4 linked regions of the Homo sapiens genome follow. The protein of the gene in region 4 interacts with the protein of the main gene of each other region in a pairwise test. Each region holds a gene or a part of one and is shown on either strand. Other genes may lie near its edges. The genes, in order: ZBED1, ATF2, ZC3H10 and PIAS2.

The links.
Region 1: the proteins of PIAS2 (region 4) and ZBED1 interact in binary tests that used the Homo sapiens proteins (3 or more experiments, as listed by UniProt).
Region 2: the proteins of PIAS2 (region 4) and ATF2 interact in binary tests that used the Homo sapiens proteins (3 or more experiments, as listed by UniProt).
Region 3: the proteins of PIAS2 (region 4) and ZC3H10 interact in binary tests that used the Homo sapiens proteins (3 or more experiments, as listed by UniProt).

The regions. Positions count from the first base shown.
Region 1 is NC_000023.11:2,485,922-2,490,993, reverse strand, and holds the end of ZBED1 (E3 SUMO-protein ligase ZBED1), read left to right. Parts: intron 1-221; 5' UTR 222-274; coding exon 275-2,359; 3' UTR 2,360-4,559; downstream 4,560-5,072.
Region 2 is NC_000002.12:175,109,186-175,116,215, reverse strand, and holds part of ATF2 (cyclic AMP-dependent transcription factor ATF-2), read left to right. Parts: intron 1-1,347; coding exon 1,348-1,526; coding exon of another isoform or gene 1,527-1,530; exon of another isoform or gene 1,531-1,973; intron 1,974-2,107; coding exon 2,108-2,222; intron 2,223-4,561; coding exon 4,562-4,648; intron 4,649-7,030. UniProt on the Homo sapiens protein: Transcriptional activator which regulates the transcription of various genes, including those involved in anti-apoptosis, cell growth, and DNA damage response.
Region 3 is NC_000012.12:56,113,428-56,121,277, forward strand, and holds the start of ZC3H10 (zinc finger CCCH domain-containing protein 10), read left to right. Parts: upstream 1-4,838; 5' UTR 4,839-4,891; intron 4,892-4,989; exon of another isoform or gene 4,990-5,340; intron 5,341-5,520; exon of another isoform or gene 5,521-5,660; 5' UTR 5,661-5,724; intron 5,725-7,083; 5' UTR 7,084-7,135; coding exon 7,136-7,850. Other genes in the region: RPL41 (small ribosomal subunit protein eS32), read left to right, coding at 3,361-3,372, 3,762-3,784, 4,055-4,097. UniProt on the Homo sapiens protein: Specific regulator of miRNA biogenesis. Binds, via the C3H1-type zinc finger domains, to the binding motif 5'-GCAGCGC-3' on microRNA pri-MIR143 and negatively regulates the processing to mature microRNA.
Region 4 is NC_000018.10:46,823,504-46,830,533, forward strand, and holds part of PIAS2 (E3 SUMO-protein ligase PIAS2), read right to left. Parts: intron 6,365-7,030; coding exon 6,231-6,364; intron 4,628-6,230; coding exon 4,456-4,627; coding exon of another isoform or gene 4,440-4,455; exon of another isoform or gene 1-4,439. UniProt on the Homo sapiens protein: Functions as an E3-type small ubiquitin-like modifier (SUMO) ligase, stabilizing the interaction between UBE2I and the substrate, and as a SUMO-tethering factor.

The sequences.
Region 1 (5,072 bases), on a different chromosome or scaffold from region 4:
GCATCGCTGCAGTCGGATTAACGTGGAAGAAAGAGCGTATTCCTGCGCTAGGTTCCCTCCTCCACTCTGCAAAAGTGACCCGCAAGGAAGGTCCAGCCGTCCGGCCCCAGTGCCCTTTGGTTGAAAGCGGAGCTGCCCCGGCACCCTGTCTGTCTCCCCGGCAGGGCTCCCGTGCGTGCCTGGGTCCCTTCTCATGCTGTGTTTGTCTTGGCCCTTCTCAGCAGGTCCCCACGCATGAGCAGCCGTCCAGCAGGCAGGCTCCGGTGGAGAAGCAATGGAGAATAAAAGCCTGGAGAGCTCCCAGACAGACCTGAAGCTGGTGGCCCACCCCCGCGCCAAGAGCAAGGTGTGGAAGTATTTCGGCTTCGACACCAACGCCGAGGGATGCATCCTGCAGTGGAAGAAAATCTACTGCCGCATCTGCATGGCCCAGATCGCCTACTCCGGAAACACCTCCAACCTGTCCTACCACCTGGAGAAGAACCACCCCGAGGAATTCTGCGAGTTCGTCAAGAGCAACACGGAGCAGATGCGTGAAGCCTTCGCCACCGCCTTCTCCAAGCTGAAGCCCGAGTCGTCCCAGCAGCCCGGGCAGGACGCGCTGGCCGTCAAGGCCGGCCACGGCTACGACAGCAAGAAGCAGCAGGAGCTGACGGCCGCCGTGCTGGGCCTCATCTGCGAGGGGCTGTACCCAGCCTCCATCGTGGACGAGCCCACCTTCAAGGTGCTGCTGAAGACGGCCGACCCCCGGTATGAGCTGCCCAGCCGGAAGTACATCTCTACCAAGGCCATCCCTGAGAAGTACGGGGCCGTCCGGGAGGTGATCCTGAAGGAGCTGGCCGAGGCCACCTGGTGTGGCATCTCCACCGACATGTGGAGGAGTGAGAATCAGAACCGCGCCTACGTCACGCTGGCCGCCCACTTCCTGGGCCTGGGCGCCCCCAACTGCCTGTCCATGGGCTCCCGCTGCCTGAAGACCTTCGAGGTGCCCGAAGAGAACACGGCGGAGACCATCACGCGAGTGCTCTATGAGGTCTTCATCGAGTGGGGCATCAGCGCCAAGGTCTTCGGGGCCACCACCAACTATGGCAAGGACATCGTGAAGGCGTGCTCCCTGCTGGACGTCGCAGTGCACATGCCCTGCCTGGGCCACACCTTCAATGCCGGCATCCAGCAGGCCTTCCAGCTCCCGAAGCTGGGGGCGCTGCTGTCGCGCTGCCGCAAACTGGTGGAGTACTTCCAGCAGTCTGCCGTGGCCATGTACATGCTCTATGAGAAGCAGAAGCAGCAGAACGTGGCCCACTGCATGCTGGTGAGCAACCGCGTCTCCTGGTGGGGGAGCACGCTGGCCATGCTGCAGCGCCTCAAGGAGCAGCAGTTCGTCATCGCCGGGGTCTTGGTGGAGGACAGCAACAACCACCACCTCATGCTGGAGGCCAGCGAGTGGGCCACCATCGAGGGGCTGGTGGAGCTCCTGCAGCCCTTCAAGCAGGTGGCCGAGATGCTGTCGGCCTCCAGGTACCCCACCATCAGCATGGTGAAGCCGCTGCTGCACATGCTCCTGAACACCACGCTCAACATCAAGGAGACCGACTCCAAGGAGCTCAGCATGGCCAAGGAGGTCATCGCCAAGGAGCTTTCCAAGACCTACCAGGAGACGCCCGAGATCGACATGTTTCTCAACGTGGCCACCTTCCTGGACCCCCGCTACAAGAGGCTGCCCTTCCTCTCCGCCTTCGAGCGGCAGCAGGTGGAGAATCGCGTGGTGGAAGAGGCCAAGGGCCTGCTGGACAAGGTCAAAGACGGCGGCTACCGGCCGGCTGAGGACAAGATCTTCCCGGTGCCCGAGGAGCCTCCCGTCAAGAAGCTCATGCGGACATCCACGCCGCCGCCCGCCAGCGTCATCAACAACATGCTGGCCGAGATCTTCTGCCAGACAGGCGGCGTGGAGGACCAGGAAGAGTGGCATGCCCAGGTGGTGGAGGAGCTGAGCAACTTCAAGTCCCAGAAGGTGCTTGGCCTCAACGAAGACCCCCTCAAGTGGTGGTCAGACCGCCTGGCCCTCTTCCCCCTGCTGCCCAAGGTGCTGCAGAAGTACTGGTGCGTGACGGCCACGCGCGTCGCCCCTGAGCGTCTCTTCGGATCCGCCGCCAACGTGGTCAGCGCCAAGAGGAACCGGCTGGCTCCCGCGCACGTGGACGAGCAGGTGTTTCTGTATGAGAACGCCCGGAGTGGGGCAGAGGCGGAACCCGAGGACCAGGACGAGGGGGAGTGGGGCCTGGACCAGGAGCAGGTGTTCTCCTTGGGGGATGGCGTCAGCGGCGGTTTCTTTGGCATTAGGGACAGCAGCTTCCTGTAGCGAGGAAGCGTGTTGTCTTACAAGTCATCCCCGCAGCAGCCCATTGGATGCTTTGCTGTAAATACTTACCCGGTCAGCTTGGTTTTGAACCTCAGAGACCATCCACTGTCTTTGACACCTAGAAGGTGGAAAAAGGAAAGAGATTTGAGAAGTGAGAGAGGGTCGGGGGCGGTGGCTCCTGTCTATAATCGCAGCACTTTGGGAGGCCGAGGTGGGCAGATCAGCTGAGGTCAGGAGATCGAGACCAGCCTGGCCAACATGGCGAAACCCCGTCTCTACTAAAAATACAAAAATTAGCCAGGACTGATGGCATGTGCCTGTAATCCCAGCTTCTGGAGGCTGAGGCCAGAGAATCGCTTGAACCTGGGAGGTGGAGGTTGCAGTAAGCTGAGATCGCTGCACTCCAGCCTGGGCGACAAGAGCGAGACTCTCTCAAAAAGAAAAAAGAAGACACAAGAGAGGTGGCTTTGAGTGGGTTTCCTTTCCTCCCCTATTCCCGGGGCCCGGACGACTTCTGCTTGGGAACTGCCAACGCTTCTGCTTGGGAATTGCGTGCAGCAGAGCCTAGAGGAGCTGTTCCTTCCTTCACAGATACTTAAGACCTCCACCATGTCTGATTCGAGTTCTCCCTGGGAGGGTTTAGAAGAAACGCAGGAACATTCTGGGTGGCGTCGAAGGAGCCTTTCCCGATCATCATGTGTGACTTCTGCGAGGTCCAGATCACTGAATTCATGTTTACATTCTCGTGCAAGCAGGGACCTCTTGCTTCTGAGAAATGGGGAAGAGACCTTTTAGCCAAAATGCCCTTCTTAAAAAGAGAGACCTTTTTTTTTAATGTTCGGTTAAAAATGTGACAGATGAGTACAAAAATGCAGACACTTAACAAAAAGCAAACAGAAAAAAAAGTGTGGAATGTGTTGTATTTTCGACAGGTTGCTGCCAGAGAGCCTGCTTCCTGCTGCCTGCCGAAATTTCACTTTGCGGAGTTGGTCCTTAAAACTGGGCGGTGGCCGGGCGTGGTGGCTCACGCTGAGGTCAGGAGTTCGAGACCAGCCTGGCCAACCAACATGGTGAAACCTCGTGTCTACTAAAAATACAAGAAACTAGCCAGATGCGGTGGCACCCGCCTGTAATCCCAGCTACTCGGGAGGCTGAGGCGGAAGATTCGCTTGAGCCCAGGAGGTGGAGGTTGCAGTGAGCCAAGACTACGCCACTGCACTCCAGCCTGGAGGCCAGAGTGAGACTCCGTCTCAAAACAAAACAAAAGTGGGTGGCTCACGGGTCCGGAGGTTATGTCTTCGGTGTCTCAGCCCTAAAAGTCCAGTTCCCCCGTGCGGCCAGCTTTTCCACATAAGGTGTTTTTGATTTGATTACCGGAAAGGACTCTTGATTCTTCTCTTTTAAACTGAATACCATAGGGGAAATGAATTTTAAAATATTGCCCCCGGAGGGGTTTTCCGTGGCTGGATTCCTGCGAGTTGCTTTCAGTCATTCAGGGAAACAGAAAGACGTTTTCCAACATGTAGAACTGCTTTTTAACTGGAGGAAAAATACTTCAGGAGGCTTAGCATATTGCTTGGATTCTACGTGCAGCGGGTTCTCTGCCTCCGTGAAGACAAGCTGGGCTGGGGAGAACGGTGTCTAGGAGGGATGACCCCACTCAGCTCCAGGCAGTGTTCTGCCGAGACCCCAAGAACTCGGGGTGTCAGAGGGCAAAGGAACTACCTGCCTTTCACGGCTGCTGACTTCTCAGGGCTGCAAGCAGCACAGAATGTTATCCTTACGTCCTGAGCCGGTTTAAGTCTGTGGAAAAGGAAGCACGGGAGAAATCCACGTAACCTTTGCTTTCTTTTTAAGGGAAGCGGTTCCGCCGTGAACTTGGAACCCTCAGCTCCGGGTGTTCTCGGCAGAAGGGCAGCTGGAAGGGACACAGTGGGGCAGGCTTTGGGGTTGCTCCCTGTTCTGCCCCGAGGCCGGGGACGCAGGGCAGCCCACGCCTCCGTGGGCTCCATTCTGTAGCATTGCCAGCGTTCTCTTCACGTCTCTAACAATCCTTCGCTTTTCCTCACTCACGTGGAAATGTGAACTGTCCCGGCTCTGTCTTCATTTTTATTTTTAAGCCATCGTTCCCCTCCTGAACGGTTGCCCCTTATTTAATGCTGTAAAGTTGGACTGTTGTTCAATAAACCAGAGCAATGCATTAGCTCCTCATTCATTTGTCTGCCGCGTGTCCGTCTGGACTGCAGTTTGTCTGAACCCCTTGATCCTGGGAGTGGAGGGAGGTTTATCATTATTATTATTTTTATTTTTGTTGTGGTCCTTGTTGAAAGCAACTTTTTCCAGGGCACCCACGGTCAGTTCTGTGCTCCTCTTTCTTGTCTGTAAATCCTCAAGTTATGATGTACTTTCGGGTGTTTTGGCATCAAAATTTCTGAGTGAATAAAGCCGGCAGCTGGTGAAAGTGTTCCCCGGGAGCAGAGATTTTTGCCGGTTCCTTCACTTAGTGGATAGTTGTATAAACGGAGGCCCCATGGACGAGGCAGCCTGGATGGATCCGGATGGCATCAGCGCCTTCCCTCTCCCCCCAGCCTCCTTATCACCCCTCTCTTCCTGTCTTCCTCACCTCCTCTCACATGGTCTCTTCCTTCCCTCCTCCTTCCGTCCAACCCTCCCTCTCTTCTTCAGCCAACAAATCCTTCCTTTCTTCCTTCTT
Region 2 (7,030 bases), on a different chromosome or scaffold from region 4:
TAACTTGTCTTCCTGCTTCTACCTCCAATCCATTTTCTGTAAGATGACTTTTAATACATTAAATATGTCACCTGCTTAAAATCTTTCAATGGTCTACCATTGTATTTAAAATAATTCACACTCCTTGGCATAAGCCCTCTTTGATCTGGGCCTGTCTACGCATCTATCCTTACCTCATGCCTCTCTATTGTGTTCATCAAATATTCAAAGCTTTTTCCTACCTCAGGACATGACATATATGGTATTGCTTCCTTCTCCCTACAATGAAATGCTCTCCTCCTCATCCTTTTATCATCAGTTCGAATGCTGTTTTTGCAAAGAAGCTCACCTATTCTTACTATGCTGTCTAAATTAACTGACTCTTCCTTACCTTCAGCTAATCTTTCATCCTTTGTTACATTGCACGTATTATTCTGTAACACTTAACATTTACTACAATCTGAAATTTTCTTACTTGTTTTACTTGTTTATTGTCTCTTCCTTGAGAGCTAGTCCTTGGGAGCATAAGTTCTCAACTTACTGAATAAATGAAGTTACAATACTACTACTTTATCCTTCTTCCTATGTAGCTTAATAAGATTTTGATGATAAGTGGCAGCATACAGGCCAATTCATAAAACACCATAGACCCAATTTTTACACTGACTATTTAAGGAGTTCTGGGTAAAATCTTTTAAAACTTTTTGTTCTATAATTTGTAAAACCAGAGGAAATACCATCTTTAAGGTCTTGGCTGACAAATTCTGTTTTCCTGACTTGAAAGAGTTCACTCCGGTAATTATTTATTTTACATTCAAGATATCAGTATTACGTGGCCTTTTGATATGAAGAAATTATTGATATAGAAGAGGTAGCTAACTGGAATTAACAATTATTTGTATTGCTCTAAAAGTTCTTATTTCTGTTACTTAATTGTATCAGCCATAACACAGTCTCACTGGACCTGTTTCCTCTTCATACAGTATAATGAGGGAGGGGGACTAAACAGTCCCTTCTGGATTTTAAGTTCTGTGATTCTCTGAGAATGGATTATATTTTTATTTTTTATTAAAATTCTCTTGGTATCATAGCCAAGTTGCCCAGTCTAACTTATTTCTGGATTGATAGGAGAACAAGTTGTACTGGAAAAAAAAAAAACGAGTCTTTTTAAAATTAAAATATTAATTGAACATTGCATTTGAATCTTTACAGCTCTTCTAAAATGTTCTTTTAATTAATTTGAGATATTAATTTGCTTTTAGCAGTTATTATTCTGTAGATGCTTTTAGAAGTGTGTTACATTCTGTTCACTAAGGTACATGATTTGTATTTTTAAATGCCACCCTTTTTTATCTCATTGTTAAATAGGAAGTACCATTGGCACAAACTGCACAGCCCACATCAGCTATTGTTCGTCCAGCATCATTACAGGTTCCCAATGTGCTGCTTACAAGTTCTGACTCAAGTGTAATTATTCAGCAGGCAGTACCTTCACCAACCTCAAGTACTGTAATCACCCAGGCACCATCCTCTAACAGGCCAATTGTGTAAGTGATTCAGGCCAATCATTGAACATATACATGAATTAAGTTTGTTTTGTAATGATTTTTCCTAAGACATTTGATTATTCAAACTAAGATCTTAGTTTTGTATGTGTGTGCATGCTTCGAATTTTGGAAAAAGTACTTGCGTAGTCTTCTTTAATATAAATATTAACTAACAGAGTGGGAGATAAATACAACTAAAAACAAATATAGAATGTGAATTTAAGATAGTCTTATTTTCATGCTATTTCACACAAAATATAAAATTACTGCATCACCAGATTCCATTTCTTTCAGTTCTTACTGGTAGCTCCCAAGAGCTCTCTGATGACAGTTTTTCTCATTTTACAAATTGGAGATTGTCCTAAGTAAATCCATAACTTTTCTCTTCTTTTCAATACTGCTACACAGGTTATGCATTTAAGATGCAATTAAAAATAATTAAATTTTGCTATTTGCTTTGCTGTGGTTAGAAAATGTATTTTTAAATGATATGATTATAGGAGTAAAAATACTATTGTATTTTTAAGAGACAGTTGGTATGAATCTCTTTTTTAAAATTTCTCTTCTTTTGTTTTTCTTAGCCCTGTACCAGGCCCATTTCCTCTTCTGTTACATCTTCCTAATGGACAAACCATGCCTGTTGCTATTCCTGCATCAATTACAAGTTCTAATGTGCATGTTCCAGCTGCAGTCCCAGTAAGAAAGTTAGACTATTTAAATCTCTATCGCAAAACTGATCTTTGTAGTCAGAAAATAAAGTTGGCTGCTTGACTGGCTTATGAAATTGAATTTAACATAATATTGATTAGCAGTTGATAGTATTTATTTGTTATCATTGTAATAGCATATACCATTCAAGGTATAGCTATTTTTTCTCTTCTCCCCAAAACCTTAATTTTTTTTTTATACTGAGATCTTCTTATTCAACCCATATCAATTTGACTGGACTTGTAGCATTCAAATATTAACACAGATTTCAAATTTTAGAAAGATATTTGTACTAGAATACTTGTCAGGTAACTCTGTGGTATTTCTATTAGTATGGAAATTGTTTATAAAGACACACTCTGAATTTTTGTGGTCAAGTAGGGTTTGTAGAATCTTTGATAGCCCAGCATGTTAAAATGTAAATGTTCTAGAAAAATAATCTTTCACTTTCCCTGTGAAAAGACCCCGCAAAAAAGTTTTTTGAGGGGTGTGTTAAATATATAAATTTTGAAAGACGTAGACAAAATAGTTAACTATCTACTTATGATATTTAATAGTTTGGCCAGGCATGGCAACTCATGCCTGTTGTAATCCCAGCGTATTGGGCGGCTGAGGTAGGAGGATTGTGTGAGCCCAGGCGTTTGAGACTGCAGTGAGCTATGGATCCTGCCTGGATGACAGGGCAAGACCCCAAGTCAAAAAAAAAAAAAAAGTAATAGTTTAATGAACATTTAAAAACACATTGTTTGGAATAATGTGTGTTAGAAAATTGCTTTTTTCTTACTTACATTACATAAAACAGTTTTATTCAAACAAACTCTTCAGTTATGTCTTTGACATTCAAATTTTCATCCTGAGAACCACTTTTTGAGACATCTAGCACAGTTTCCAGAACACAGTATTTTCTTTTTCATCTAAATCATTTACGATATTACTTTATGAATCTCTCTATTATTCTCTCCCTGGAAATCTTACACCAAGCATTAGGTACTTATTTATGTAATAAAAAGATAGTTTTTTCTTTTACCTTCTAAGATGCTTGTTACTGATCAGTACAGTGTAATCATTTACAGTGTAGCTTTTAAAAATTATTTTTAGGCCAAGTGCAGTGGCTCATGCCTGTAATCCCAGCACTTTGGGAGACCAGGGTGGGTGGCTTGCCTAAGTCCAGGAGTTCAAGACCAGGCTGGGCAACATGGCAAAACCCCATCTCTACAAAAAATAAACACAAATTAGCCAGTTGTGATGGAAGCACCTGTAGTCTCAGCTACTCAGAAGGCTGAGGTGGGAGGATCACTTGAGCCTGGAGGTTGAGACTGTAGTTAGCCGAGATTGCACCACTGCATTCCAGGCTGGGCAACAAAGTAAGACCTTGTCTCAAAAATAATAAAAAATAAAACTTATTTTTAAAAGCTTACTTATAGTAACATTCCAACACTTTCGGTGAGATTACCCCCAAGAATATTACTAGGATTAATGTTTGATATTTATATCTTTTTTTAATTAACTAATTCTTCCACGTGATCTTTCAAACTATCCAAAATTAGCATTGATTGACGTAATTTCAAGATAATGTGCCTTCTTTAAAAAGAACTTTGTTCAAAATGCATTATTTGAGAGACTTTGTAAGGACTCAGATATAAGGTATCTGCTTCCTCTTTACTGAGAATATTTTTTTGAGGAGGGAAACATTCTTGCCTTGTTTTTGAGATTCTGATTATCCTGTTACATGTACCTAGTGATGAAAGCAACCGGAAATGAAAGAAAAGATATGCTTTATTTATACAGTAACTGTGTTCACTCAGTGTTAGGTTTAAGAAAAAAAAGGAAAAAACCAAAATGGTAAAACCTGTTACAGATTATTTCAGAAATTATTACAGTGTGTTATTTGTTATTATGTGGTATGTATAAGAAAATTCATTGTATATATTTTTAGAAAAGCAAAATTCATTGTTGAAATTATTTTTTATGCCTAAGTGTCACAAGTTTTGACATTCTTCCTTTCATATTCAAAATGGAAGTTTGACAGATCTTTGAGAATTTTTGCATTAATCACTTTGAATATTATGAATTTCTAACAGGGACCATTAAGAAAGAAATTGTAGAAACTGAAAATTAGGAAAGCACACGTCTCAGAAATTGACAACTTTTGAAGGATAAGTCAGGATATAAGACCAAATAAGGATTTGGTATAGAGATAAAATCAGCTGGTGATAAATTTACAATGTTCTGATTCTTAAAGTCTCAAATTATTACAACAGCAGTAAAGTACAAATCTCATTTTGAATATATTCTCTAGCAATTATTTTTCCTTATGTCATGCATAGCTCGTTCGACCAGTCACCATGGTGCCTAGTGTTCCAGGAATCCCAGGTCCTTCCTCTCCCCAACCAGTACAGTCAGAAGCAAAAATGGTAAGCCAGATTTTATTTGTTCTGTACATTGCTTGAGGCTGTTTTGAATTAATGTTTTCACTAAAGCCTGCTTCAAATGCACAATTTAGATCACATTTTTATAAAGTTACGGACTGTTTTATACTATAGATAAACCACAAAATTTGAAAAAAGAAATCTTCCTTTAGCATAGTGAGTAGTTAGTGATACTTTAAAATTAGTGGCAGATTAGAAGTTCTGTTTCTTGTCACTTGTTGTTTGTCTGGCTTTTTCTTGTGGCTTTTTCTCCTCCTAGTGGAAAATAGGAGTATTACATCTGAAACTAGATGTGATCATCTGAAGGCAGTGCTGCTAATAATGATGAGTGGTTTTAACAGTATTAAAAAGAATTCTGAAATAGTGTACAAGTTAGCAAACATGATAAAACCATTTTTTTCTGTTGTGCTGTTTGGATGCTATTAAATTAATGTTTAGATGTGTATTTTAATTTTAATTTTAATCCTAACTCCACTATTCACTACCTTTAATTAAGCAACTGTAACTTTCCTGAGATTGCATTTCCTCATCTGTAAAATAAAAAGATTAAGCTTTGGTTTCTGGGGTACTTCTTAACCCTAAATCCTATAAACGTTCTAATTTTCTTAGTAGAAGATCTGACGATTCTATTTTTAAAGAAAATCAGGGCCGGGCGCAGTGGCTCACACCTGTAATCCCAAGCACTTTGGGAGGCTGAGGTGAGCAGATCACCTAAGGTCAGGAGTTCGAGAGCAACCTGGCCAACATGGTGAAACCCCATCTCTACTAAAAATACAAAAATTAGCCGAGCGTGGTGGTGCATGCCTGTAATCCTAGCTACTCGGGTGGCTGAGGCACAAGAATTTGCTTGAACCCGGGAGGCCGAGGTTGCAGTGAGCCAGCATCGCACTATTGCACTCCAGCCTGGGTGACAGAGTGAAACTCCATCTCAAAAATAAAATAAAATAAAATAAAAATCAGTGTAATTCTCCTTGCTGTGTTATAATACAATAATGTCAGTTAATTAATAACATCGATTAATTGGGTAGATGTTAACGTTCTATATCATAATAGGGCTAACAACAGCAATTAATTAATGTATCCTTAGGAAATCAATAGATTAGTAGTTATTAGACACCTTCTATTTGCTTCAGTTATTTGCTAGGCACTATACTAAATACAAATTTTTACATGCTAAAACATATTGCAGAGCTGAATTTATTTATTTATTTATTTTTTGAGATGGAGTCTCGCTCTCTCACCCAGGCTGGAGTACAGTGGCACAATCTCAGCTCACTGCAACCTCCGCCTCCTGGGTTCAAGCAATTCTCCTGCCTCAGCCTCCTGAGTAGCTGGGATTACAGGTGTGCACCACCATGCCTGGCTAATTTTTGTATTTTTAGTAGAGACGGGTTTTCACCATGTTGGTCAGACTGGTCTCGAACTCCTGACCTCGTGATCCCCCCTCCCCAGCCTCCCAAAGTGTTGGGATTACAGGCGTGAGCCACCACACCCGGCCTGAAAAATTTTTACTGCTATTCTCCATTAGTGCAGACAATCAGTCAGAAATTTGCACAGGACACCCTGTTTTAGCAATAAAACTTACATATTATCTGAATGAACAGCAGTTGGTTGAAGAGTATAAAAATTAGGTGGTTATTGATTGTTAGAGAAGACCCTAAAAACCCAAGGAGGAAATTTTTCACATCATAGTATGTTCAGGTCAGAGCTTTGGAAATACTAAGATGAATCTTCTTCACTTGATAGCAGAAGAGCTTCACCAGGGGCATTTTTTGCACTTCCTATTTTAGTATACTGATTGATGAAAAATTCAATTTAATTTACCATGCAGTGGGAACTGAATAGAGCAGATATAGATATTAAAAGGAGATCCTGTTATTGTGTACTGCATCTAAAAGTATTTTTACATATTCATTGGACTTTTTTCTATAAATTAATTCAAAAGGAACAAATCCAGTTTTAAGAAATACCTTTATTTACAAGAGTAGGCCATATTTTTAGAAACTGTTAAACTTTACACTTAACCTGAATAACTGTTTCTTTTAGGTCATCAGGAAATTAAATTAAAAAGAATAAAAGTTTCTCTCTTTCCGATCAGTCCACTCCATCTATTCTGATGTTTGTAACCATAGATTAGTTATAGAATTTCATATAAATAGCCACTTTATACTCTTATGTCCAGCTCAGCATGTCTCAGATTTATCCATGTTGTTGAGTGATCACAGTTTGCTTCTTTTTATTGCTGAGTGGTATTCCATTGTGTGAATATACCACAATTTCTTTGTCCATTCTCCTGCTCATGGACACTTTAATGGTTTCTAGTGTTTAGCTATTGTGAATAAAGCTACCATACACAGTCTTTTTTTT
Region 3 (7,850 bases), on a different chromosome or scaffold from region 4:
GCTGTCCAGTCAGGCCCCTCCCATTTTAGGAGCTGGAGCCTTCATTTATGAAGAGATTCTCATCTATGAAATGGATCCTCATTTGTAAATCTTTTTTCTTCCATTTTCACAAAGCTGTAAAGAAATAATCCATCTCAACCTTACCCTTTTTCTCTGGAGTCAGTGGGGTCTTTCCTCGCTCCATCTTACACAGACCTGAGCTGGAAGCTCAACTGGTTTTGTTCCCTGTTTGAAATATTGTGATCTCCCTCCCATGAAAGAAAAACCAAGAACCAGAGGCGTAGACTGACTGAAGACACAACTCCTGGCTTTCTGAAGCTATGGACTTGGATTGGATTGCTGGGGGTTTGTAGAGAAAGGTGACAAATTTCAGTACCTCTGGCATGCTGTCCCAGGAAACTAGGGCTCCCACTAACTTATGAGGTTTTTAAACACATTGAAAATGACATGACATTAAAATAAATTTGGATTTGCTCATAATGATGTGCTTTGTATGCTGCTCTTGTTTGATGGAGGTGGGGAGAATGTCAGTTGAAGTGGTATTGGAACTGTTCCTCCACAGTGCCATGCTCTACCTTCCCAAAACGAGGAATGTCTTGACTTGCAGAAGACACAAATCTTAGAATCTTTGATGATATAGTAATCTGCTGGAGTTGGGTGGTGTAATTTTCTAAGTAGAAACAGTCCTCACTGCTAAGATTTGTTTGGGGCTAGGACACAATGTCTACTGCAAAAACAGTACTGCAAGTGTTTATCTTGAATTCAAGAAGCCAGGAAGAATGGTACACTAGTTTTCAGGGCCAGACTAAGGTCAGATGGGTAATTAGTTTATCTTACTACATGTCAGGAATTGCTAAACTAGAGATACTACAAGTGAACAGAACTGAACACAGGTCAAATGTGTAATGATGTATATCTACCATTAAAATAGAGTAGTTTTAGTGCCCTAAAAATCCTCTGTGTTTTGCCTGTTCATCTCTCTCTCCTTGCTTACGCATTTGTCCAAAGGCAAAGAATGTACAATGCCAATGCCAAGAGTGAACCCTAGTGTAAACTAAACTATGGATTTGGGGTGATAATGGTATATCAACGTAGGTTCTATTGTTAACAAATGTACCACTCTGGCAGGGTGGAGTGATGTTTATAAAGGGGGAGGCTATATGTGTGGGAAATGTCTATACCTTTCTCAATTTTGCTGTGAACCTAAAACTGTTCTAAAAAATTAAGTCTATTAAAAAAAGAAAAAAACAGCCAAGTGCGGTGGCTTATACCTGTAATTCCAGCACTTTGGGAGGCCGACGCAGGCAGATCACCTGAGGTCAGGAGATCAAGACCAGCCTGGCCAACATGGTGAAACCCCATCTCTACTAAAAATATAAAAAGCCAGGCTTAGTGGCGGGCGCCTGTAATCCCAGCTACTTGGGAGGCTGAGGCAGGAGAATCGCTTGAACCCAGGAGGCGGAGGTTGCAGTGAGCCAAGATCGCGCCACTGCACTCCAGCCTGGGTGACAGGAGTGAGATTCCATTCCGTATCAAAAACAAGCAAACAAAATTTCCCTCAAAGAGCTTATAAACTAGTTGGCAATCATCAGTTGAAATCTTGGTGGAACTGATACAAAATAATTCTGCTAGGATTTTTTTTGTTTCAAAAAAATTGTCATATATATTTGGGTGGTGACAATACTACAACTACTTAGAAGGAACCTAATTTTAAAAACGTTTTTCAGGGATTGAAAGTGAAATGCTATCCTGGAATATAATAAAGGGAAACCACAAAAAAAGAGGGATTGTAACAATCACATACAAAATGTTACAGTATTTTAAAACTGTAAGATGAAGTCTCTATAGGGAAAGGGTTCTTTTTCATCCCCCATTAACTCAAAAGTTTCCTGTAGCCAAATCTTAGGGGATCTGGTTGTTTTCCAGTGCTTCTCACCTGAGCATACAATCAAACTGGGAAGTTCTTTATCTTAACACCAAATGTCATACTTTCCCTAGATTTAGGTAATTTTCTCCCTATGTCCGTTGGTTCGCTCTTCACCCCTAGAGAATCACTGCATAGGTCACTGCAGCCTCGACTTCCTGGGCTCGAGATTCCCCCACCTCAGCCTCCCAAAGCGCTGGGATTACAGGCATGAGCCACCGTGCCCAGCCCGCTGACGTATTTTCTGAACAAATGATGCATTGTAGCCAGGAATCTCTAGTGATATTTTGCTTCGGGCATCGTGGGGGAAGACCATAATCAGCTATTTTATTCTTGAAATTTAGGAAAAATAATTGCTCTATCTTAAACAGTGAGAAAATATTTTTTGAAGTATGGCAGCTTTCCCGAATCCCCACTTTATATCTTCCTATGTTCTGAAATCTTAGGACCTTCGATGGTTCCGGAATCGAATCACCCTGCAGCAATTTATTTTAGAAAATAAGGCAAACCGGCTGGGCGCGGTGGTTCATGCTTGTAATCCCAGCACTTTGAGAGGCCGAGGCGGGCGGATCGCTTGAGCTCAGGAGTTCGAGACCAGCCTGGGCAACACAGCGAAACCTCGTCTCTACTAAAAATACAAAAATTAGCCAAGTGGCGCGCGCCTGTTGTCCCAGCTGCTCGGGAAGCTGAGGCGGGAGAATCGCTTGTATTCAGGAGGCGGAAATTGCGGTGAGCCGAGATCGCGTCACTGCACTCCAGCCTGGGTGACACAGTGAGATCCTGTCTCAAAAAAGAAAAAAAGAAAGAAAGAAAGAAAAGAAAGAAAGAAAGAAAGAAAGAAAGAAAGAAAGAAAGAAAGAAAGAAAGAAAGAAAGAAAAGAAGGCAAACCAGTAAAACAAGAATTTCTGTACAGTCCGCGCCTATCCATAGCAAAATGGAGGACTTCTCCAGGGAACTGCAACTCCCAAGAAGCAATGCGAGGGAAGGTGGCGGTCACTATTTTTTCCCCGTCTGCACCTCTAGGTCCAATATTGGAAATAGGTGCTGACGTTTAAATAACACAGCGTCCTCATACTAAATCTGGGGGGGAACTGGTAACTCGAAAACCAAATACTCGGTCTTCCGAAAGAACTAACTCAACCTACCCTTCTACAAGAGGGTCCGAAAACCACTGTTACGCCCATTGGGTAGCCCCGCCCTTGGGGGGGGCAAAGGGCGTGAAAGCGGAAGTGACGACACCCGGCGCTCCATTAAATAGCCGTAGACGGAACTTCGCCTTTCTCTCGGCCTTAGCGCCATTTTTTTGGGTGAGTGTTTTTTGGTTCCTGCGTTGGGATTCCGTGTACAATCCATAGACATCTGACCTCGGCACTTAGCATCATCACAGCAAACTAACTGTAGCCTTTCTCTCTTTCCCTGTAGAAACCTCTGCGCCATGAGAGCCAAGGTGAGCGGTTCCTGGTAGTAAGCTTGGGAGGTAGGAGTTGGCGAGTAGTAGCGAGGAGACGAAGGCAAGTCCGCCATACCTCCTGAACTACTGGGTTTCAAGGGTGCCCAAGAGCTGGTGGGAGAGAGAAGGTAGTTTGTGAGAGAGCTAGCGGTTAAGTGCTATGGGTAGAGAGGGTGGGCTTAGAAAAGGGTGGAATTCTGATCTTATGTTGGGAGGGTGTCCAAGTTACTGATGTAGTTGTTACGACCAATCTTTCATACTTCTTGGTTAAGAATCTGTCCGGTTCTAAAGAGTGCATTTCATATCCTTGCTAAGCCTACTAATAAGCTTCATCCCTTTTTTTTTTTTTTTTTTTTAATTATCTGCTGCTTGTGATCGGTTGCTAGTGGAGGAAGAAGCGAATGCGCAGGTACGTTGAGACTTTGCCAGCCCAGGAGGAGGGAAGTTCCTTGGACAAAACTTAGGAGAAACATTTGGTTTGGAAATCTTAAAAGATCTTTAGGAGAAAAACGTTTGAGTGTTTTCTCCCTGGAGCCAGGATTTAACAGAACAGAGAACGATAGAACCGTAGTGCTTGTTCATTTTACCACCTCATTCTTTATGTGGACGTTTGATTTAATGTGGGAGGGAAAGGCAACTCTGGTTTGAGGTGTATTCCATTCCTGTGTCTGCTTTTCAGGCTGAAGCGCAAAAGAAGAAAGATGAGGCAGAGGTCCAAGTAAACCGCTAGCTTGTTGCACCGTGGAGGCCACAGGAGCAGAAACATGGAATGCCAGACGCTGGGGATGCTGGTACAAGTTGTGGGACTGCATGCTACTGTCTAGAGCTTGTCTCAATGGATCTAGAACTTCATCGCCCTCTGATCGCCGATCACCTCTGAGACCCACCTTGCTCATAAACAAAATGCCCATGTTGGTCCTCTGCCCTGGACCTGTGACATTCTGGACTATTTCTGTGTTTATTTGTGGCCGAGTGTAACAACCATATAATAAATCACCTCTTCCGCTGTTTTAGCTGAAGAATTAAATCATCTTGTCTATTATGTTTTTTATGGTTCCATCGGGTGGGGGTTTTCTGTCATTAGAGTTTGCCCTGTCACTACCTGTGCTATGGAGGGTATCAAAGCTATAAAGGCAACAGCCCGGGTTACGTGGTGTGGTTTGCATCTCGCTGGAGTTGGATGGGATATGGTACGTCTCTGGAGGCAGGTTTTAGGTTTCGCGGGTTATTAGGGGCCAATGCTGGTACCGCCCCTTTCCAGGAGGGCTGCCTTGGCGACTACCGCTTAGACCATGTCGTGCCTTTGGGTTGGGTTGCCATAGTGACACGCAAAGCGTGCTGGGAACGCCCTGCGGCATGTCGCACGCGTACTTCATACACCATAGAGTATGGTTCCGGGTCTGCTGGCTAGAGCGTCACTTCTTCCGCAGGAAGCGGAAGAGCGATCGGGTAGGCGGCTCTTTGTCGAAGCTAGAGGACCGGCAGGCGGCAGCAGCAACTACGGCGGCGGCGGCAGGTGAGGGAGGCGGGAGACTTAGGTGGAGGCCGCGCCCGGAGGGGAGGAGTCGGGGCCGGCCCAGCGGCTGGGCTCGGCCAGGCCACAGAAGGCCCCCCAGAACCGAGCTGGCTCGTCCTCACACCCCAGGGCAGTGCCCCTTTTCTGAGTGACCCCGCATCGCGAGCAAACGCCAGCTTCGTGACGTCACAACCCTGCCCATCCCCTCAGCTTGATGACACCTGGAGCTCCAGCTCCCCGCTTCACTTCGCGCGCCCTTAGTGTCCCATTCACGTAGCCCACGGCTGAGCGCCGGCGGCACTGCACGGAACCTGCCAAGCTAGAAGACTTGCTGCGGGAAAACTCCTAGGACTTCTTTCGCAAACTCTAGGGTGTTGGGAAGCGTCACAATCACTGCCTTCAAGTCTAATCGGCCATCCCAATGCACTGTCAGACGCTGCCTTTTTGAGGTTCCTCACTAGCCATTACTAACTCCAGCCCTTGGCGGTGCTCTGACCCTCACATCCTCTTTCATCTTGAGGCAGGGCGCCCCGCACTCTTTGTTCACTCAGGGCTGGTTTTCCAACCCCTCCTCCCAGTCCCTCCGAATTAGTTTTACTCTTCTTACTGGCAACTTCTCCCTTGGACAGGTGAAGTTCAGTTTGAACCCTGAGGAAATCCTCACGTTCTCGAAGCTTTGCCGTTTTGTCAGATTTCTTGTGACAACCACCCCATAGTCCTCCACTCTTACTCCTTCTTCCACCCAAGTCTCTGTTTTTTTCCTGCTCAGAACCCAGCAGTGATGTGGAGGTGGAGACCCACAGGAGCCCCGGACTTCACCTGAGCTACCTCAGGTATCAATTCTGGGAGAGTGGGGTGGGGAGGAGCATCATAACTAATTATCTGCTGCTGGTGCGACTTGCAACGTGAGCCAGGCTTGGATAGATGGCATTTGTACTTCACCTGGTCATTCCCCTTTACTAAAAGTTTGTATCTTCTTTTACCACTTCTTTCCTTGATTGCTTCTATTATTCTGGGACTACCTCTCTTTAGAGGAGGAGGACCCTCTTACAGATTCTCTTGTAACTCTGGCCTCTGGTTTGGTTAGTTCATTTTAGGGAGATCTGAAGGCAAAGTCACAGTAGTGGGGTGGGGGTAGGTCAAGGCCAAAGGAATTAGGAAAGATTCCCTTATTCTCAAAGGGAACAATATGAAGTTTTCCTATTTCAGCAGCAGGGGGAGCCTGAACACCGCATAGGAAAGGCTTGGGAGGTCAGACACGTGGTAGCAGGGACTCCAGGTCTTACTGGGGGTGGAGAGAGGGGAGGGCTAGAACCAGGGCAGTGGACTGACATTCCAAAGCTCTCTTGGGAAATAGGAGACTTAAAAAGCTTTTATGGAGTCTATAAATAAAGAGGATCTTTCTGGGTTGAGGAATGGTGTGGTTGGATGTCAGTGGGATCTTCACATAGGGGAGTAGGAAGGGGGTGGGGAATGGGGAAAGGTCACTTGTTCCTGTGAAATTAACTCCTTCCCACTTGACCTTATCACAAATGGTTTGTCCTAGGAAATCTAGAAGTGGAGACTCTAACTTAGAACTCCTATCCTGAAATAGAAGGGGCTTACCTCTCTGCCGTTGACAGTGATGATGGCTGGGAGGGAATACTAAAATATGACAGGTTTTGAGACTCCCCTCAAGCTGGTGACACCAGTCTCTTCACCCAGGATTTCTTGGCTTCTAGAGATTTGATGTGTACAGAGCCCTTACCTGAGGAAAAGGAAAGGGGGTTAAGGAAGTTTTGTTACCAGTGTCCCATCTTCTACAGCCCTAGTAGCTCAGTAGCCCATCTTGGGCACTATTCCCAGTTTCCTTCCAGACTATTCAGATACTGACTGCAGTTTTAATTTCACTTCCACAACTTTAATAAGGTCAGCTCAAAAGGAAAGATGAATTCCAACACTATTTTTTCCCTGCTCCGTCCTGGGCCTATCCCTCCTCCGTTAGCCAGGCAAGTGTGAATCATTCTGACCCAGACCAGGTGCACAAAACCCTGGGAGGGGCTTTTGATGAGTCAGACATTTCAGCCAGAATTCTTATCCCTTAGATTCTCCATCTCTAAAGCCATTGCCCCTCTGGGCCACCTGCTTTATAGTCAGGAAGAGTGGGATCTCCCTGGAGGACTCCTGTTTGATACAGTTCTCCTCTTTTGTAGTGGTCACCAAGAGTGGCAAGATAAAGAAAACCCTGAGTTGGGCGGGACCAGGATGCCTGACCGGGACAGCTATGCCAACGGTACCGGGAGCAGCGGTGGAGGCCCTGGAGGTGGTGGCAGCGAGGAGGCCAGTGGGGCAGGGGTAGGCAGTGGCGGGGCCAGCTCAGATGCCATCTGTAGAGACTTCTTGAGGAATGTGTGCAAGCGAGGCAAGCGTTGCCGATATCGCCACCCAGACATGAGCGAGGTGTCCAACTTGGGGGTGAGCAAAAACGAGTTCATCTTCTGCCATGACTTCCAGAACAAGGAGTGTAGCCGCCCAAATTGCCGTTTCATCCATGGCTCCAAGGAGGATGAGGATGGCTATAAGAAGACAGGAGAGCTTCCCCCACGGCTGAGGCAGAAAGTAGCAGCTGGCCTTGGCCTTTCACCGGCTGACCTACCAAATGGCAAGGAGGAGGTCCCTATCTGCCGTGACTTTCTCAAGGGTGACTGTCAGAGAGGAGCCAAGTGCAAGTTCCGTCACCTGCAACGGGATTTTGAGTTTGATGCTCGGGGTGGAGGAGGCACTGGTGGGGGCTCAACAGGCTCAGTCCTCCCAGGACGACGTCATGATCTCTATGATATCTATGACCTTCCTGACAGGGGCTTTGAGGACCATGAGCCAGGCCCAAAACGCCGGCGAGGTGGATGCTGCCCCCCTGATGGCCCTCATTTTGAGTCATATGAATATAGTTTGGCTCCACCGCGAGGGGTGGAGTGCAGAC
Region 4 (7,030 bases):
TACACACCTGTCTGTCACTACAGTAACACCTAATAACTGTACGTGTCCTGTCACTTAGTAACATGAAACTTTAAATGAGTAAATAGCTACTCCTTACTTAGGCAACACCAAAAGGTTGACTGTCAAAACATGTGAAATGTGAAAATCCAATGGCGGTACAAATTAGTAAATCAACATCTAAAACCTCAGCAAACATATGAAAAGCTAAACTACTTAGTGTTGGTTAATTCCCATTACCTGAATGTTGCAACCATTAATACAAATTCAACTTTACATAGAATGGCTTAAAGTAGTCATTAGTTAGGATTATCAAATTACATACTGGGAGCAGGCTTTTGTTATCAAAATCTTCACAAAGACCACATTCAGAAACAAAATGATTCTAAAGCCTATGCAAAAAATAGATATGAGTAACAGATTCCATGAAAAAATGTAAATGGCTATGGATGGTGAAATGATGGATGTAAAAATGTGATGCTATATGTTAATAAAAAGATTTAAAGCTTTTAAAACTTGTTACTGCCTCTTCATAGGATTGGTAAACACACACAGATACGTGTATACATTATGCAAGTGACCATTTATATTTTAAACGTTTGTAACTTTATCCATAATATCACAGCACAAAAGTGAATTGCTAGAATGCTGCTATATAGCAAATATTAGTATTCCGGATTATATGCTGGATCAGAGAATTGCATGAAACTCACATTTGCTCAGACTTGGATGTCTGAAAATAGGTTGACCATTTCTATTTATAACCCTGAAGTTCACTGTATGCTCCCACTTTATGATCATAAAAGTATAAAAAAGATGCAATTTTGCTACCAATTCTTAATGATTATCAATCTGGAGACATATAGATTTATCCTTATTATGTTTCCTGTCTTTAGAATACCTTCTTATTAAGGCAAAGCAACCACTCATTTTTCAGAAGGGGCACAATATGTAAAATTATCTTTTAATATGGAAAAACATCAGAGGTTTTCTAAATGTCTTAAGATTAACATACAAGTTTCTTCTGACAGGTATTATAAGACTGCATTTAAAGACTCCGGTTCGTAAGCAAAGAAAGGGAATAGGACTGCCATCAAAATGGCAATGATTCTCTCTAGGTGAGATATTTTTTGCTTTCTTCTTGGTGCTTTGTAAAATTGTTTATAAGAATAATTTTTACTAAAATAATAATACCTCTTAAAAGATAGTTGCTCACAGGCCAGGCGTGGTGGCTTATGCATTTTGTAATCCTAGCACTTTGGCAGGCCAAGACAGGTGGATGGCTTGAGCTCAGGAGTTCGAGACCAGCCTGTGCAACATGGTAAAACCCCATGTTTACAAAAAAAAAAAAAACACAAAAAAATTAGCTGGGGGTGGTAGTTCCAGCTACTTGGAGGGCTGAGGCAGGAGGATCGCTTCAACCCAGGAGGTCAAGACTGCAGTGAGCCGCGATCACACCACGGCATTCTAGCCTGGGTCACAAACTGAGACCCTGTCTCAAAAAATTAAAAAAAAAAAAAAATAGTTGCTCACATAATTTCGGGGCTGTAAATTAGAGTAAGTTTTCCTGATTTCTCATTCTCTGTTCTTTCTCATTTGCTTACTATCTTTGATGGCCAAGAAATCCTATGATAAACTTACACAGCACAGGAAAACCATAAAAACTCTAGATGCTGAACTACAAGAAAGGATATGAAAAGGACAACCAAGAACAAAGTCACAAAAGTCTAAGAGTAGGAGGGGATCACAGAGATGATATAACTATAGCATGAGCCTCCACTATGACACTGTGACAGGTGGCAGCCACTCTAACACAGAAAATATGATTTTGGGACAAAAGATTAAATTTCCTAGTATTCAGAAAGCTCCAATAGAAAGTTTATCCATGTATCTTTAGTCCACTGGACCTAAATCTGGTAATAAAGAACAAACTTAATCCAGCTAGTCATTGTCTCCCTTTTAAGAACTACAAGGTGGGTATCAAATAATCTCTTCTCCTGGTTTAACAGCTTCAGTCCTTAAGATCCACTCATCCATCTTGCTCCAGATTCCACTATTCACCTTCCCGTTCCCCTGCTCTGGCCATACTCATTTGTTAATACCATTCTTGATGATCAGCACTGACTGAAATGCTCTGAGAGTCATATAGCCTAAAATGGAACAAAACTGGCATGGTATGGATCCTGGACACTATGCTTATTTTATTAATGCTAAGAACAAACTGATTTCAGTGGTGAACTCTTCAAACCATTAACTGAAACCTGACATTTGAAAGAGTTTCTATCAGAAATGGCAATTAATTTACTGAAGGCCTTTCCAACATCCATGAAGATGACTACAAAGTTGTCCTTATGACGAGATCCATCTTATCAATGTATTTCCTAATATTAAAGCACTCCTGGGATAAACTCTAGTTGGTCACAGATGTCATTTTAATATATAATTAAATGATTTCCTAAGACTGAATTCAGAATTTTCATTTATCTTTCTATGTGAGTCTGTTTCTTAAGAGTTCTTCCGTGTATTAATGTGTATGTATGTCTAGGTTGGGTGTTAAGGGCTACATCAGCTTCATGGAACGAACTAGGTAGCTGCGCTTTATACAGACTTTTAAAATAAACTTTCATGTGTTGCTGGTTTAGTCACAAATTTCTATCTTATACTTACCAATGTTAGTTTTTGTTTTCTTTTCAGCCTAAATGAGGAACCTTAACATTTATCTCTATAGTAGCTGATCACAGATGTAAACTATCCTTATTCCTCTGCATACTGAGGTCATTTCAGATTTTGTCGCCCACTGTGTATGTGCCATCCCTCCTGTTTCATGGACTTATCAAACACAGATAAAAATGTAGTAAAGGACAGAGGGTAGACCCTTGTGGCATGCCACCAGAGACATGCTCCAAGATCACAACAACTCATGAGTCAGCATCACTAGGCATGACCTCTCAACCTGGCATGAATTCAGCCAACTGCAGTACTTGCAACTCATGTTTTTCCACTATATTCTAAAGCGTATCATTACAGAGTAAAATCCAGAAACATCACATCTAAGCATTCATTCCCCTTCAAAATACATTTTGAACGTAACCATTTCAAAATTATAACTTCATTTTCTGTTTATCATTTAAATTACAGATGTACCAACCAATTTGTCTCAAAGGAGCAATAAATGATTGGCACACCAGGAAAAAATCCACTTGAAATACTTCCTCATTTTGTTCCACACACACAAAAACCCCACCTCATTCTAATTAAATGGGTAGAAGTAAATATATGCCTTTAATATATGTGTAAATTATATTTGGAAATGTAAGTATTTTAACAGCAAAGAAGGCAGCTGAAAAGGTTTAATTCTTAAAATTATAAAAATAAACAATGTTGCAAAACAAGACATTTTATATAAAATGTCTAAACAGGCATTATAGACACAAAAAAACGATTGCCTAGATTTGGGGTGTAAATAGGAATAAACTACAAAAGAACATGAAGAAAGTTTTTTGGGTGTTGAAAATATTCTACTACTGAATCATGGTGATGATTGCACAGCTCTATGTATTTACTAAAATCACTGAATTGTGCCATTATATACTTAAGATGGGTACATTTTATGCTATGTAAATTATAACTCAGTAAAGCCATTAGAAAACCAAGTGGACCAAGAGGCCAAAAAGATGACACTAGCAAACCCAAGTTTGAAAGAATGTGTTCGTAGACAGCCAGGAGAACTCTCCTGTTATCTCCTTTTATGGTTCAAAACCTCTCTGAAAAAGCAACTATTGTTAAATACCCAAACCTGATTTTTAATGCAGGTCAGTAATGCCTTCTGCCAGATAACTTACAGAGAATCCACGCTAAAATTCAGGTAGAATGCCATCCTACCCACCTATATTTTGCCCTGGAGAGGGTGAAAAGGGAAAGGAATCAATTTTTATTGGGAAATTACCACATGCCTGACACCGAGGCTTTCTTTCATCTCATTAAAACCTGAAAATGATCCTGTAATATAGGCGTTATTTAGCTCCATTTAACAGAACACAAAAAAGAGGCTCAATCAAATTAAGTATTTCATCTAAGATCACAGAACAAGTAAGCGATGGTGTGCCAAAATTGGAATCCATACTTGTCAGATTCCCAGTTCCACACTCCATTACACCAGACTTTCTCATCTGGTCTGAGATGCCAAATTTCCTTACAAACAGGTTCAAGAAAATAACAAAAAGTCTCAGGTAGGAAATAAATACCTCACACGCTCACTTTCCAAAGATGTAAATATTTTCTCCATCAAAATTTGCTTCCTATAAACAATGTGCTTACTCGAAAATATTTCAACTCAACAAAGGCAAATTAAAATAGCCTTCTACAGTTATGCCATTTCCCAAAGAGACATTTATAAATCTATCCAAGAGCAATTAGTTGCAAGGGTAATGAACAATAGTGAACTATAAATTAACAAACCCTTTGGTTGGGCTGCTTTGTGTTTCTGACATAAAGATGCATTTCCTTTTGGCAGGAGGGTCTTCCTCTTCGTCAGAAGAGCTTTCTATTGTAAGATCAATAACATCTACTTTCTTCTTGCTTGCCTCACTGGCTACAGTCACTGAACAAGGCTTACTGAGGACGCTTGAACCTGCATGTAAAGAAACAAAAGGAAAAAAAAATTAAAGGTATAACACAAATAAACTCTAGTGGTAGAGTCTAGTATATTCAGTATAGTATGTTCCTGACAACATATAGCCAGTGAAGCCACATACTCCAACCCATGGACAAATACCAACTCCCTAACTCCAGACCTCTGTCTGTAAAATGGTTGTTCACCTAGGGAGACAGGTGAGCACTATTCCTTGACAGATGGTTAGAAGTCTCATTCAGACAGAATGTTCTTAGTTATGCCTCCAATACCACTGAAGGATTTGTGCAGCTCCTACTGCTCATCCTGTCTCTGCAGGTCAGCAGTCGTTTTACAGAAAGACACGCAGAGTTAGGGAACTGGTCTCAGGTCATGGGACAAGAATGGGTGAGTTCAACAGCTATGTATTCTCGCACACATGTGGCACAGTTAGCTCAGAACCAGATATTTCCATTCTAGCAATTATGCTTATATCAAAGAAAGTACAGACTTTTCACCATAAGCCAGAACTTGATAAAAACTTTCATCTTGATAAGTTGAAAAAAACCCAAACCTCTCAATTAAGTTACTAAGACATTTAAACTTTTCTTATGAATTATCTGCTAATCACGTAGGTTCTTTCTACCCACAAAGACAGTCTCACATACCATATTTGTTAACTCACATTTTCACAGAAAAGTATGTTATTATCTGTAATGTATTTAGTTAAAAATGAATGACAGTTGATAATGGAAAAGCAACAGAAACTTATCAACTAAATCACTCCCCATTTTTCTGAAAGATGAGAGAAACCTTGGTCACTGCACTCAGGTTTAGTGTCAATCGCAGAGGAATAATTAATAATGGCATAAATCCTTTATTTTTTCCCCTTTCTTCTTACTCCATTCATTACATTGTTTGTTAGAACTTCAAATGTAATCAGAACAAAACTGAAATGCAGTGAGTAGACTGTTAGATAAAAAGAAACTCTAAGTTCACGTGTGGGTTTCAATGAGACTGTTAGATAAAAAGAAACTCTAAGTTCACCTGTGCGTTTCAATTACTCCAAATGCCCTCAGTTTCCCTACTTAGTGTGGATGGATGCAGGCAGTTGATGGATGAGTATACATTCTAGGTAATCAAGGCAATGTTAAAATTCTTCTCCACAAAGAAATGGAAGGTAACAATTTGTTTACTTTCTGAGCAACTAACCTGTGACCATCCCCAAACCACCAAGGCCATTAACCAATGATGCAGCCTCTCTAACCTCACCTCCACCTAGGGTTCCACCTACAGATACTCTAAGAACAATTCTGAAAAACTGTCCATATAAATTCATTTGTGACTTTTTGTTTTGTAACAAACATCATATTTTAAAATGATTTTAGATGAATGTTTCCTTTATTCTACACAGGAAAAATATACTATGAAATAGCTGATAAGATGGTATAAACTTTAGCACATTCCTTCAGGAAAGAATAAAAATCATTTGGGGGAAAACTATATATCATCAAAAGACTGAGTCAACAAGCTGAATTCCAAACGTATAGTTCTAGGGGCCAAGATTAATGATAATGTTGCACGAGTCTCACTGCTTTACTCTCTGCTGCTATTCTACACATACTTTCTATTTTTGTACACGGTTGGCTGGATACTTTCATAGCTTCTTTCTTCGGTCTCATTGGACACCAAGAACCATCTTCTTGGAATTTGATCTCATCTACATCAGAACAGTCATTGAGAATTTCCATAAAAAGCCTAAAAAACAATTAAGAAGTACATACATGTGATCAACAGCTTTGCCTAAAGGTGAAATAAGAAAGTAATACACATTACCTTGAAAACATAAGTAATGTTAGCTGACCCCCTTTTCTTTTGGTATTGCAATACTTTATACTTTACAACAATTATTACACTCCCTTTGTCCTATGTTTTAAATCTGTAACAGGCAACATAATAGTTAAGTAACTTACTGAGCATCACCTGTGTAACTCAATGAGTATAAATGGCTAGAGAGAAGTAGATACCTGGAGCCTCCTAGCTGAGGCTGGCAGTAAGAACAACCTCTAACACAGCACAAAAAACAAACATCAGCAGATAAAGGTTACTATATAGTAAAATAATTTATAAACTTTAACTTCGAGAAAAAAGGATAATGGGGTAGGGGAAGGAGGGAAGAAAAGGGAAATAAAAGAAGTCTCAATAAATTTAAAATAAGTGTATTTGAATTAAGTTCAAATTAAGTCCGTACCAGAAAAACCTGAAAACTTGGAAACTAAACAAAAGAAACATGAGTCAAAGATAAAAATAAGATTTTAAACTGAATGAAAATAAAAATGTAATAAAATTTGTGGACTGTATTATTTAAACACTGAAGTAGTATTTAAAGGAAAATTTATAGCATTAATCTTCCCTAATTAGAAA